4 separate regions of the Homo sapiens genome follow, and all the other regions are reported to be linked to region 1. Evidence: microRNA targets listed by miRTarBase, many of them from high-throughput screens and not tested one by one. Region 1 holds a microRNA gene; each other region holds the end of a gene's coding sequence.
What was found. The annotated mature microRNA hsa-miR-548ao-5p reads AGAAGUAACUACGGUUUUUGCA and lies in region 1 at 2,265-2,286, opposite strand. An mRNA with a match to its seed (bases 2 to 7 or 8) in the 3' UTR can be bound and repressed. Matches are read on the target gene's strand: a 7mer-m8 pairs with bases 2 to 8, a 7mer-A1 pairs with bases 2 to 7 and ends in A, and an 8mer does both.

Region 2: miRTarBase lists CSDE1 as a target of hsa-miR-548ao-5p. Seed matches in the 3' UTR shown: 7mer-m8 at 2,068-2,074.
Region 3: miRTarBase lists TOB2 as a target of hsa-miR-548ao-5p. Seed matches in the 3' UTR shown: 7mer-m8 at 385-391.
Region 4: miRTarBase lists PPWD1 as a target of hsa-miR-548ao-5p. The part of its 3' UTR that is shown has no 7-base or 8-base seed match.

What each region holds. Positions count from the first base shown.
Region 1 is chr8:41,268,838-41,271,955 of GRCh38, forward strand. It overlaps MIR548AO (microRNA 548ao), which reads right to left and starts at 2,306; the gene lies at 2,211-2,306. The region is part of intron 2 of SFRP1 (secreted frizzled related protein 1); the gene reads right to left. It also overlaps the pseudogene RPS29P2.
Region 2 is chr1:114,715,710-114,718,827 of GRCh38, forward strand. CSDE1 (cold shock domain containing E1) reads right to left here. Exons shown (of 20, transcript NM_001007553.3): 19 at 2,904-3,036; 20 at 1,207-2,507. The coding sequence ends at 2,460. NRAS (NRAS proto-oncogene, GTPase) reads right to left here and starts at 1,062. Exons shown (of 7, transcript NM_002524.5): 1 at 949-1,062; 2 at 341-468. The coding sequence starts at 451. RefSeq lists enhancers at 758-857, 868-1,067.
Region 3 is chr22:41,433,464-41,436,581 of GRCh38, reverse strand. It overlaps TOB2 (transducer of ERBB2, 2), which reads left to right. Exons shown (of 2, transcript NM_016272.4): 2 at 1-3,088. The coding sequence ends at 271. Among named protein-coding and RNA genes, the nearest start is that of TOB2, 12 kb to the left of the region's middle.
Region 4 is chr5:65,587,005-65,590,122 of GRCh38, forward strand. PPWD1 (peptidylprolyl isomerase domain and WD repeat containing 1) reads left to right here. Exons shown (of 11, transcript NM_015342.4): 11 at 249-545. The coding sequence ends at 392. TRIM23 (tripartite motif containing 23) reads right to left here. Exons shown (of 11, transcript NM_001656.4): 11 at 2,686-3,118. Among named protein-coding and RNA genes, the nearest start is that of PPWD1, 25 kb to the left of the region's middle.

The sequences.
Region 1 (3,118 bases):
CATCCCATCATGCTCACAGGGCCTGGGCCCCAGCGATGTTGCCCATGGCCTGAATTTGCAATGCAAATGGTGGTGGTGAACAAACAGAAGCCCAGAAGGTAGCAGCTGGGGCAACAGCTGGATACAGTCCCAGGTCCTGGGTTCTTCTCTGAGTCTCAGTACTCTGTCTGTAAAGTGCAGGGCACCATCCGACTGCAGGCCTGGTGGATCGACCATCTGAGGAGCCCCTGCTGGGTACTTCTGGGAGACAGCAAAGTTTATCTCCAGCACTATCCCCACCCTGTGCTCACTCCATGCTTCCCTGATTGGGCACCCTGCTGTGCCTGGAGCATAGGGCTAAAACTAAACTACCACCTTGGACCCTGGATCTCAGCTCCCTGTAACAGCTAGACCCTAATCTAAAACCAAACAAAAAAATTTTAAAAATTATGTGTTTTTTTTCTTAAGCAACAATTTTAACATCCTCCAAGGGTAGGACATGACTCCCACCTAGGCATAGCTGCCAGCAAGAATTCAGAGACCCAGAAACTTTGAAAACTCAAAATTTGAGGCTGCAACAAGGGCCTGCCTGGGTCTTTCTCGGGAAATCTTAAAATAATCCATTATATTTGAGTAGGCCATTAAGCTTTCATTCTACTTGCAGTCACCCAAACCATTTTTGCTCACAAATTATACTTCCTTGGTAGCCTCCCTCAAGAAGCCTGGCCTTATTTGGGAAGCTGAAATGAGAATGAGGAAGTCATCACACACCATCCCAAACCCTCACATTCTTCAAAGCCGTCTCTTCCTCCTGACTCCCTGCTTCTATGAGTGGTGCCTCCAACCCTCCCAAGCCCGAGACATCCTACCCATGACTTTGAACGTAAGGCAACCATTGGCCCAGAGCCAGTCATTTCATAACCAGTCCTGTGGAATGGCTGTAGGAATCCAGGAAGGGTCTGTGGGGAAAGGTGGCATGGGGTTGCATTAGGAATCAATCTTATAACTCCTCTGATGGCAGATGATAGTAGCAATGAAGGGTAAAGTACAGAGGGAAAGAGGGACATACTAGAGAGCGCCTTCGTCAGGTGAAAGGAAGAAGAGTTACTGTAAATGCCACGGGAGGCCCCGCTGGGAAACCAGGCAGCCCAGTGTCAATGAAGACCACAGGGTCCATTTAAATGGAGGAAACACCCCTCAACCCTAAGTGCCGAAGAGCTTAAGAATGAGTCTGAAACTAGAGCACTTCACTGGGTGATTAGGGGGCCACGCCAACCCATAGGAGGCCAGGATCTGGAGTGGTGAGGGCAAATTCCAGAGAGCAAAAATCCAATGGGAAGGGAAAAGAAGAGAGAAGCCATATCACCAAGCTTCTGGACTGAGTGCGAAGGAGCACTTGCAGGCACGCTAGCCACATGGATTAGACTGAGCCCGTGCAATCATTCCCACTCTTCTTGAAGTCAGTTTAAAATTAGAGTCAAAAAAACAAGTTATAAACACATGCAAGAAAGTGGTAAAGGAAAAAAGAACATATCAACATTTTGTATGACAGAAAGCAAATGGATGGTAGAATCTGGCTTAAAAGGGAGAAGAAAAGCTAAAATGCAGATAGGGATGCCAGTAAAGTGCAGAGAAAAGAAGAAAAAGAGGGACAGACAGGGATGCCAGTAAAAAACAAGCCCATTTGCACTCCAGGTCCCACAAATGCTCCTGATTGGGGCCCCCGGACACTCCTGAACTCCATCACAGAGGCTGTCAATGTTGGGATTGGCAGCAAGTTTACATATGGACACTCAAACCTACTCCCCTGGGCCATGAGTCCAGGTGGCTGCCCTCACCAACTCCAGCAGTAGCCATGGGCTTCATTCCATACAGAAGGCCTGTAGTTCCAGCTACTTGGGAGGCTGGAGGTAGGAGAATCGCTTGAACCCGGGAGGTGGAGATTGCAGTGAGCCGAGAGCGCACACTGCACTCCAGCCTGGGTGACAGAGCAAGACTCCATCTCAAAAAAAAAAAAAGAAAAAGAAAAGAAAAGGGGGAAAAAAAGAAGGCCTGAACCTGCACACAGCCTGCCGCTGGGGTATACTAGACACAGAGGAGGACCGGACAGGTGCTGCTGCGTGAACACCAAAGGGTTACATGAAAGTCTGCAAAGTGAAGAATGAGACACTCGGGTCTTAGAACACTACATTTATATGCCTGTGTCAGAGGATTGAGTGGTTTTTCTCTAAAGAAACTATTAGGCTGTTGCAAAAGTAGTCACGGTCTTTGCCATTACTTTCAACTGCAAAAACCGTAGTTACTTCTGCATCAACCTAAGAATAGTTCAAAAGAAAAGACATATGGGCCCTCTGCAAAATTCTCAAGTGAGGCCTAACAAATCACAGGCCCTGCATGTACACAAAGAGCTTCCAACGTCATGTCTCGCTGTTAAATTCAAATGGACAGTCAAGGGCTGGCAAGTATTTAAGGAAAGCCTCCAAATGTGAATGGCAGAGACTGTAACATACAAAACAGAAAAGGAAGAAAAGGAATTCAGAGATAACAGAGACAATGCAGGGAGTATTAAAAAAAAAAACTTTTCACTTTTTGCCTTGTTGCACTCCTAAAAGCAAGATGGGTCACCAGCAGCTCTCCTGGAGCCATCCAAAAAAATTCGGCCAGGGTTCTCATTCTTGTCATTATGGCCTCAATATGTGCTGCCAGTGTTTCCATCAGTATGCAGAGGAGGTAGGCTTCATTAGGTTAGACTAAGTGAGCTTCCCTGAATGGATTATCCAAGGCATCCACCAAGTGAAAGAAACCATGCTAGCTCTCTGTACATAAAATAAAATTTTAAAAAAAAAACTTTAAAAAATGATAATATGGCCAGGAGTGGTGGCCCGCACCTGTAATCTCAGCACTTTGGGAGGCTGAGGCAAGCAGATCACTTGAACCCAAGAGTTAGAGACCAGCCTGGGCAATATAGTGAGACCCCATCTCTACCAAAAAAAAAAAATTAGCCAGGCATGGTGGTGCATGCCTGTAGTCCCAGCTACTCAGGAAGCTGAGATGAGAAGATCAGCTGAGTCTGGGGAGATTGAGGCTGCAGTGAGCTATGACTGCACCCCTGCGCTCCAGCCTGGGTGACAGAGTGAGA
Region 2 (3,118 bases), not on the chromosome of region 1:
CCATCCTATTATCTCCCATACAATCAGACAGTCTCGCTACTATGGCCTGTGTTTCTCATGTAATAGAGCTGTTATATATGAAGAAACTCATGAATGAACTCAACACTGAGTTTGCAATAGTTTACAGAACTGTTAAAAACTGGACAGGTTTTAGAAACTTCAGCAGCTAATAAAAATGAACTGTTCTCTATAAACACGTTAAGCTTATTGCATAACTGAATGTATACCCAAAATAACTTTTTACTTTCTCTCCTCTTATTCCTTTAATACAGAATATGGGTAAAGATGATCCGACAAGTGAGAGACAGGATCAGGTCAGCGGGCTACCACTGGGCCTCACCTCTATGGTGGGATCATATTCATCTACAAAGTGGTTCTGGATTAGCTGGATTGTCAGTGCGCTTTTCCCAACACCACCTGCTCCAACCACCACCAGTTTGTACTCAGTCATTTCACACCAGCAAGAACCTGTTGGAAACCAGTAATCAGGGTTAATTGGCGAGCCACATCTACAGTACTTTAAAGCTTTCTATAATCAATGGAAATGAAAACCCTAGTGTGACCTTCCATTTGGTTCTTAAAGTGACTAGAGAACGCAAAAACACCGGATTAATATCGGCCTCACACTTCTGGAGTAGTTTTCTAGCAACCCCCATCCTTAGCTATTTTTCAACAGTCCTTGGGCCCCGCCCTCAGCCTAAGCAATGGAAATCCCCCTTCCTATTACTCCCCGAAGGCTTCTCAGCTCTAGCAGGAAGCCTCCAGGCCGCAACTCCTTCCCATTCTCCCTTCTGTCTCCAAAGATCTCCCCACGTAGGCACCAAATGGAAGGACCCCCGCCCAAGGCCTTTGTCTCCAGCTGATAGATTCTGCTCCATTTCTGGCATCAGTGAAACGCCTGAACATTCCACAGCCCAAAGCCGAACACTATGCATGAGATAAACTTACCTCAAGCTCCACTGCCTCTGCTTTGGACAGATTTAGGACCACAGCCGGGAAAAATGTTGGAGACCCCGGAACCGCCATGAACAGCCCCCACCAAGGAGCGGCACTTCCGGCCCCGCCCGCTACGTAATCAGTCGGCGCCCCAGGCGCCTGAGTCCCCGCCCCGGCCACGTGGGCCTCCGAACCACGAGTCATGCGGCAGGCCGCACCCAGACCCGCCCCTCCCACACGGGACGTTTCAATAATGAAAGCGCTAGGTGCTAGTGTCTCAAAAATCAGTAAAACTTTATTCGCTTCCATTCTTTCGCCATTAACAGAAAACTGGAGAAAGCAAAAATGTTTCGTGTTTACAAAGATAAACGGCCTCTTTACCCAGAGATCAAAACCTCAAACGACAAGGGGGAAGATAAAACCGCCCTCCCCCACATCCCCTGAGCTGACCCTTGTCATCTTAGACAAAGCCTTCAGTCCACTGGCCAGGGACCCTGTATATGGCCAATTCAAGAAGAGGGCCAAGAAATCAGACCCATCCATTCCCGTGATATAAAGTTGAACAGAAGCTACACCAAGGGTCAAGTGTCTGTATTTTACAGGACACAGTAACCAGGCGGCTACTTATAAAAAAAAACAAGATTCATTTCAGGCACAACTTTTTTATTTTTTTTTGTTTTGTTTTTAAATCAGTAAAAGAAACCGGGTCCTAGAAGCTGCAGTGATCTAAGCAGCAGCAAGTTTGTGCATTCATTTTTTTTGTTTTTGTTTAAATATGTTTAAATTATCACACTGCTGGCACTCCTCATTTGCATGAAATTCTGCACCATACTTACTAATTGTAGTAAAGTTACCCCCCAACCCACGAAAAAAAACCTACTCTGGAAGAAAATTTTCACTGAAATATAACCAAACTTCTTTAAGTGGATTGTGACAAGATTATAAATGATATGAAAAATAACATTTTAAAATTTGGCCATCAACTTTAAGAAATGGTTTGCCTATACAAATTTTTGTAATTTTTAAAAGATAATATATTCTACCCTCATATGGTCCTCAGAATTAAAGCATAATGAACAGGAAGAAAAAGGAAAAGAATGCAACTGAGTGCTAAGGCAGAACATCTTGCCAGAAGTAATTAATGAAGGTAGAGTATATAATGAAAAGTGCAGAATTTCATAGGGCCAACAAGATAACAGTCTATATTTTTCACTTACACAGGCAAAGTGGATTCTGCAATTACCAGTTGCGTTAAATGCACCAAATAAAGCTCCTAAAATTGATACTATAAGGCGCCACCTTAAGTTTTTCCAGGCTGCAACTGTGCATTATTTAAAATGGTTTTCTTAAATTTATTTATTTTTTTAAACATAACACGAGGAAGGTGTTAAAACTGGTGTAATAGCTCAATAGAATAAGTATTCCAGATTTCGGGAGGGATGAAGAGGGAGATATTCAGAACCCTTCACCAGATTCCCCCCAACTTGATCATAGTGGATTAATGGTGTGCTTTGTGGATGTGGTTAGTCAATGACACCAGCTTGACGGATCTTTCTTTCTGCACCAAACCCCTGTGGGGGGGAGAAAAAAAAAACCCTGCAGTTAATGATTTGAGCGCACAACAATCATAGTACATTCACTATTCCGAAATGAAACTACAAAAGCATTATTTTTAATCATCTTATGCAGTACTAATTCTTTCCTAGAGGAGAAAATCCACAGTAAGCACTCCTGACCCATTCATTACCTAAACTGTCTTCAAAGCATCAAGAAAAGAAATGTGCTTCTTACTGTAAGCAACCATTAGGTTAGGGGGCTGAACCAATGTGTAGAAAGTCCTAACTAGTTATAAGCAATATGGAAGTCTCCCTGCTTCATTAAGTTTCCTGACCTATTGTTTAAATAGGACCACATATTTTATGTTGGTCTATCAGTTGGCCTCCCCCAAGCCTTGTATGCCCTCATACCATTGAGTTATCTGGTCCCCTTGGCTGACGAAGAACCATTAGGCGAGGAGCACTGGCATCATCCAGAGTGATATTCTTCAAGCGATTGACCAACCGATCAGGTCGAGGAGCTGCAACAGCCTTGGGGCCCTCACTGTAATTAAGTCAAAAGATGAGAAGAAACCACACTTGGTGGGCAGACAGCAAGCACTTGCAAAGGAGTGTGTTTTCCACCT
Region 3 (3,118 bases), not on the chromosome of region 1:
CAATGCCAAGGAGTTCGTGTACAACGGTGGTGGCTCACCCAGCCTCTTCTTTGATGCGGCCGATGGCCAGGGCAGCGGCACCCCAGGCCCGTTTGGAGGCAGTGGGGCTGGCACCTGCAACAGCAGCAGCTTTGACATGGCCCAGGTATTTGGAGGTGGTGCCAACAGCCTCTTCCTGGAGAAGACACCCTTTGTGGAAGGCCTCAGCTACAACCTGAACACCATGCAGTATCCCAGCCAGCAGTTCCAGCCCGTGGTGCTGGCCAACTGACCATCTACCTGCCCGTGGGGCCAGGAGCACCCAAGACCACAGAAAAGAGAAAGGAAAGGCCAAAAAAAAGAGGAAAAGAAAAATGTACAAAAAGATTTTCGATCTTCTCACTCTTACTTCTAGAAAAAAGATCCAGCCCAGGCACGGAATGGGAGGGCCCTGCAAAGCACCCAAGTGTGTTTCACTCACCCCTTACCGCTCGCCCACCGGCCTGTGATTTATTTGGTTGGTTTGGGTTTTATATTTCTTTTTCTTTTTTTTTTTTCTTACATGTAGTTTTCTATATAACATCTTTAATGAGTGGCTTCCTGTGCTAAGAATGGTCCAGATGTGAACTGCTGCTCCCTGCTCCTCCCTTCCTCCTTCACACTCCTAGTTTAGGATTGATGTGTCCAAGCTCATAGGGAAGAAAGAGCTGCAGCTGGAGCCTGACCCTCCCTGGAACAGGGAGAGGCTGGCCCGTGTCACTGCCTCTGTCACCCAGCTATCCTCGCACTCAAAGCCATCCAACCTCAGCAGGCCTTCTCGGGCCCTGCCACCTGAATAGGTCTGACCCCAGTCCCCACTCCCTTTCAGGCTGGGCCACAGGGAGTTGCTGGCTGGCCACTTGACACCCTCCCCCTGGAGCTGATGTCTGTGACTACAGGGAGATTAGCACTTCGTCTAGTGAAACTCCTTTCATCTCTGTCCTATGGCCCCACCCCACCATTCCCTCTAGGCCCAGACCATCATCATGGCCCTGGCCATTGATGTGTATGGGCTTTCTTTCCCTCATGCAGCCCCTTCTTCCCCAGGCTGGATGTTGTGGGTAGGGAGGGGTGTGTGTGTGTGTATTTGGTTTGCTGTCCTTTTTTAAAGGATTCCAAGCCATGTGAAACTTCCCTTCTGGATGTGATTCTGGGTCGCAAGTCCTTATTTATATGTGAGGCTGGGGAATGGGCTGGGGGTATTGGCAGTCCTTTTGCAGGGCAGTGTGTGTGGTGGGGTGACACCGCTGTGGCTTAGCCCAAGACACTCCCAGAGGAAAACACTGCAGAAGGAACTGGTTTGCAGACTGTGGAAGGATCTGCAGTTTTGTTTTTGACCAAAAAAATAATAATAAGTTAGCTCTGAAGGGCAGAGGGAATACCCAAGCCCCTGATGCCTATGAGAAGTCCCTGGACTTCAACCCTCCTGTTGTTTGGCCTTAGCCCAGAGGGAGCTGCTCACCTGAGCACCCTTGGGGGTGGGCAGAGAGGCAGGGTGGGATTTTAGAGTTAGTGTCTGTGCGGGGGCAGCCCTGAGCCTGGAGTTGAGACTTTGGGGTCTCTTAGTTTGGAGGTGTTGAGTGCATTTGTGCCCCTGCCTGGTTGAGAGCTTCTTGGTACCTCTTGCCACCCCTTCTCACTGCCCTGACCCAACCCCACTGGACCTTGATGCTGCGAGGAGTGGTGTCCTGACGGACTCAGCACTCCCGCCTGATGTATTGGATCATAGGAGAGCACTTGCTCTCCTGCCTCTGCCAGGAGAGGGCTTGTTCCTCCAACTCTAGGAGGCCAGGCAAGCATGGACAGGAGCCAAGGGAGCAGGGTCATTAACTTTTTCTTCTTTGCAAAGTGGGCACTTGGCATCAGGGTCCCAATCACCAGAAAGCACCAAAGCCCCTGGCACCCCACCCACTCCATCCTACCCAGGGACCCCAAGTAGGCAACTGTTATGGCAGTGGGTCCAGCCCAGGCCAGCACTGCCAGCCTCCTCTCCCTGCAGTAGGCACCAGCTCTACCTCCCCCGGCAGGCAATGTCCTGGCTTCTCAGCCCAGCACCATCTGTTCCCCTAGACTTCTCAGGGGCCAGCCCAGTCTGGGCCACCCTTTGTTTCCCTCATCCTCGGCTCCCACACAGGTGACAGACCCAGCAGATAGCTTCTCTCTGGGAAAGGTTGGATGCTGCCTTACATCCCCTTCTAGCCCTCCTCCCATCCACACACACAGGCACCCACCCACACCAGGTCGGCTTGTTTCTCACATGTAGGGAGAGAGGGGAGACCAACCCCTTTGTGTCTTTTGAAATACGAAGAAAAATGTGTGTTCAGGAGCATGACTCCAGTGCTGCGCTCTTGGGCCCAGTTCAGTCTGTCTTGTCTCAAATCTAGGCATTTTTGCTTCAATTTTATTTTTTTTAAGAATACAAAAACAGAAATCTGCACTAATTTACCTGGTTTCGTAGGAAAACTTTTTTTTATTTTTTACATTTTTTGGTGTCCGTTTGTATTGAATAATTTGCTACATTTGTAAAATGTAAGAGGTATATAATATATGTATATTTCTAACGTAAAAAACATAATTTTTTTCTTTTCAAGATTTTTTCTTAAAAAGATGAGAGAAACATATTTTTTCAGGAAAAACAAACTTTAAAAAAAAAAGAGGAGAAATAAAACCTTTTCTCCCCTTTCCCCATCCTCTATCTATCCCTCTTTCCCAGGAACAAATCAAAAGGTGGATTATCTTCTGAAGAATGGAAACTGTTAGTCCAGAATGATGTGTTTTTCTCAATGCAGTGAGTTATAGATTCTCTAGTTTTCTCCCTAGGGATGGGAAGGGGGCATTGAGGCAAGCCTGGAGAGGAGCCCGGGGAGCAGGGTCATGAACTTTTTTCTTTAGTGAAGGAGGAATACAATCAAGGGTTTTGTATTCAGAATGTTGTGCAATATTTTGGAATGGGACATTGGTGTGTTTAGAGATTTTAGTTTAAAAACAAAACAAAAAGATTGATCAAATCTGTACAGTTTCTATTGTTCCAGATTTTTTTAAGTTTGTATTAAAAGCATGATACATAATAGCCTTCTGCCTGCTCCTGGCTTGCTTGGTT
Region 4 (3,118 bases), not on the chromosome of region 1:
CAGTTCCCTTTGGTCTGAAAGATGCAGATATTTAATTAAACATTATACTATGCTTCTATTTTTTTTAACACACTGGAAATAACTTTTAAAAGCTGCTACATTTTTATTGCTGAGAAATTATTGTACTTCTTTTTAAATATATGCTAAAGGGGAGCGTAAACTTAAATTCTCTTTAATTTGCTCAACCAGAGGATATAATTTAAAGAAATTGGGGTTTACCAAGATTTTCCATTTGTCCTCCAACACAGCCTTGGCTTGATAATAAGCATACAGTATTTGGACGAGTGACTAAAGGAATGGAAGTTGTACAGAGGATCTCCAACGTCAAAGTCAATCCCAAAACAGATAAGCCCTATGAGGATGTCAGCATCATAAATATTACTGTCAAGTAAAATAAGATTTGTTTTAATGTACTTGCAAATAAAAATACAATATTAAACAGATTATTTTACATTAGGAAGCTTAGGACTTGCTGAATATACAGATCATGTTTCAAAGATACAGTATTTTTGTATTTTTTATTAAAGGCTATTTTTTAAAAATTACCTTTGACTTTTCTCGCAATATTTCTAATCCTGGGAGGTGATAAATTGAAATGGACTAAACTCAGGCAAATAGCACTCATTATAGGTAATTTCTAATCAGCCTCAAATTAAATATTAAATAATTACAGTACTCTCCTCCACCCCCTTTCCCATGGTTTTCTTTCTACTGTCAACCATGATCCAAAAATAGGTGAGTACAATACAGTGAGATATTTTCAGACAGCAAGACCACATTCACTAACTTTTATTACAGTATACTGCTATAGTTGTTCTATTTTATTGTTGTTAATCTCTTACTGTGCCTAATTTATAAATTAAACTTTATCATAGATATATATATATGAAAACACAATATATATGGGGTTTAGTATCATCTGAAGTTTCAGGCATCCACTGGAGGTCTTAGAAGGTATCCCGTGCGATGACAACTCTATTAAATAATGACAGTGGTACACAACTGTGCTTTAATTTTGAATACCTGCCAGATATTCCGCCCTTATGTTTAGAAGAGTGCAGATCCCTCCTATAAGAAAAAAATACTAGGATATGATATTATATGTCATTTCCTTTGTTTTACAAGGTTTCAATGCCAAATATTTTAGTCTTTTGATAACTGTTTAGTAAGTAGTGGTGAGTAAAGCCTCAATAAACAGGAAGTTACTTTGGTCAAAGTGTTATATTCCTTAATAATTATGAAATATTCTTTCAAATGAAAGATTCAGAATAAGTGAATACCTGAGTCCTTAGTTTATTATATGCAGGTTGATTTTCAGATTATTTTTCTAACATAGGTAAACAATTTTTTCTGTCCTCAAGTTATAGTATATCTTTAGAAAATATACCATTAAGAAGTATACATAAAAATTTTGGTATCTAACAATGGAGAGATTAGTAGAAATTGGAGCAGTAAAACAATATGAGCACAAATTCTTATATTGATCTTCTTCACTTACACTTATAACTAACTTCATAACTATTAAGACTCACTGCTTCGTTTCCAGAAAGAAAGACTCTTTCTTTCAGAAACTTACAGGAAGAACATTCTCAACAGACCTGTGTAGGGAATTTATATTCTTAAGTTTTAAATCGGCTTAAACTTTTCCTTCTATTGATCAGCAGGATTCTTTATTTATTTCGTGCTACAAAGTTGTGAGATAGATAGGAGATTATGCCAGATTGTGCTCCTGTAATGTATGCTCCTTTTTAAAAGTAGAACTTAAAGTTAGACATGAAAATGACTTTTCAATGTGACATTTACTGTTTCTAATTTTAGTTGTTTAGTCTTACCTACCTAGCTTTATTCATTCCTAAAAATTTAATCTAAATTTTTGGTAATATTGCCACCAAGTGGTGATGATGCCTCATTCCCCAACAAATACAATTATTTTGCTTTGAGTGAAAACCATATTTGACTAATGAATTTTTCGATTAATATCAAAAACTTAATCGGCAGACCTAAAAACATACATTGCCCATGTCTTTTTAAAAGCATGTTTTAAGTTATCAGGATATAATTTCATCCTTATTCATTAGTCCTTTTCATCCTTTATTCTTTTAGGGAAGAATACAGCTGTCTTCTTCTTTGTTAGCACTTTGCCAATTGAGAAGTATCCCAGTGTTACATAAAAAGCCTTTCTCTTAGCAGTATTAGTTCATGAGCTACCACTAAGTTTTGCAAGCCATTTTCTAAAATGGTCATTTAAAATACTATGTTTTCTTATGAAACAAGTTTACATTTAAAATTTAAAAGGCAGTAACAAAGTTTCACTTCGTTCAATGTAAAACTTTAGCTCCGCCTTCAAAACACTATGGTTATATTACTTATTTAAATGTGGCCTGCACATTACTTCTCGGCCTTTTGGCTAAGATCAGGTGTAGTTAAGATCAAGTTTAGTATCTGTTCTCATCAGTAAATGTGGCCTATGTTGCAAATTCAAAACGTTATTTCTAAAATTTTGCTGTATCAAATAAACTACATCTCAAATTTGACAGGCATGCCAACCCATACCCATTTTGTTTTATTTTCTCTCCTAACCACAGCACAAATAATGACTTCTTAAATTGGTTACAACTAGCAATAATATTAGGTAGATGGTTCAAGAAAGAGACTTTCAAGAATAATGATGGGACTTCTTAAAAATGATCTTAACATTTTATTGCTGTCTATACTTATCATATATGTAGTGCAAATAATGGCTTCTGATGGTTATAAAGCATTCCTGAATTATAGACTACGGCTATACACTTGACATACCTGCTTTATATAACATACAGTAATATTTAGACCTAATACAGAAATTCAGCTACTAGGAAAATTCTAATATACTGTATATAAAAAAGCTCTCTTCTTAGTTTCCCAGGGAAGACTAGCACAGTCTTAACTAATGATTAGTGAAATAATACAACCACAAATAGTAATAGGAGCTTGAGAAAAATATTTCTTTAAAAATGAATCACACACAAACACCTACCATTATACATACATTATAATCAGGCACAATTTTTCAACTGTGTTCAGTTATATGCTAAGAATGTGCATTACAAAGTTTAGCAAAATTAGTGAAAAGGGAAGC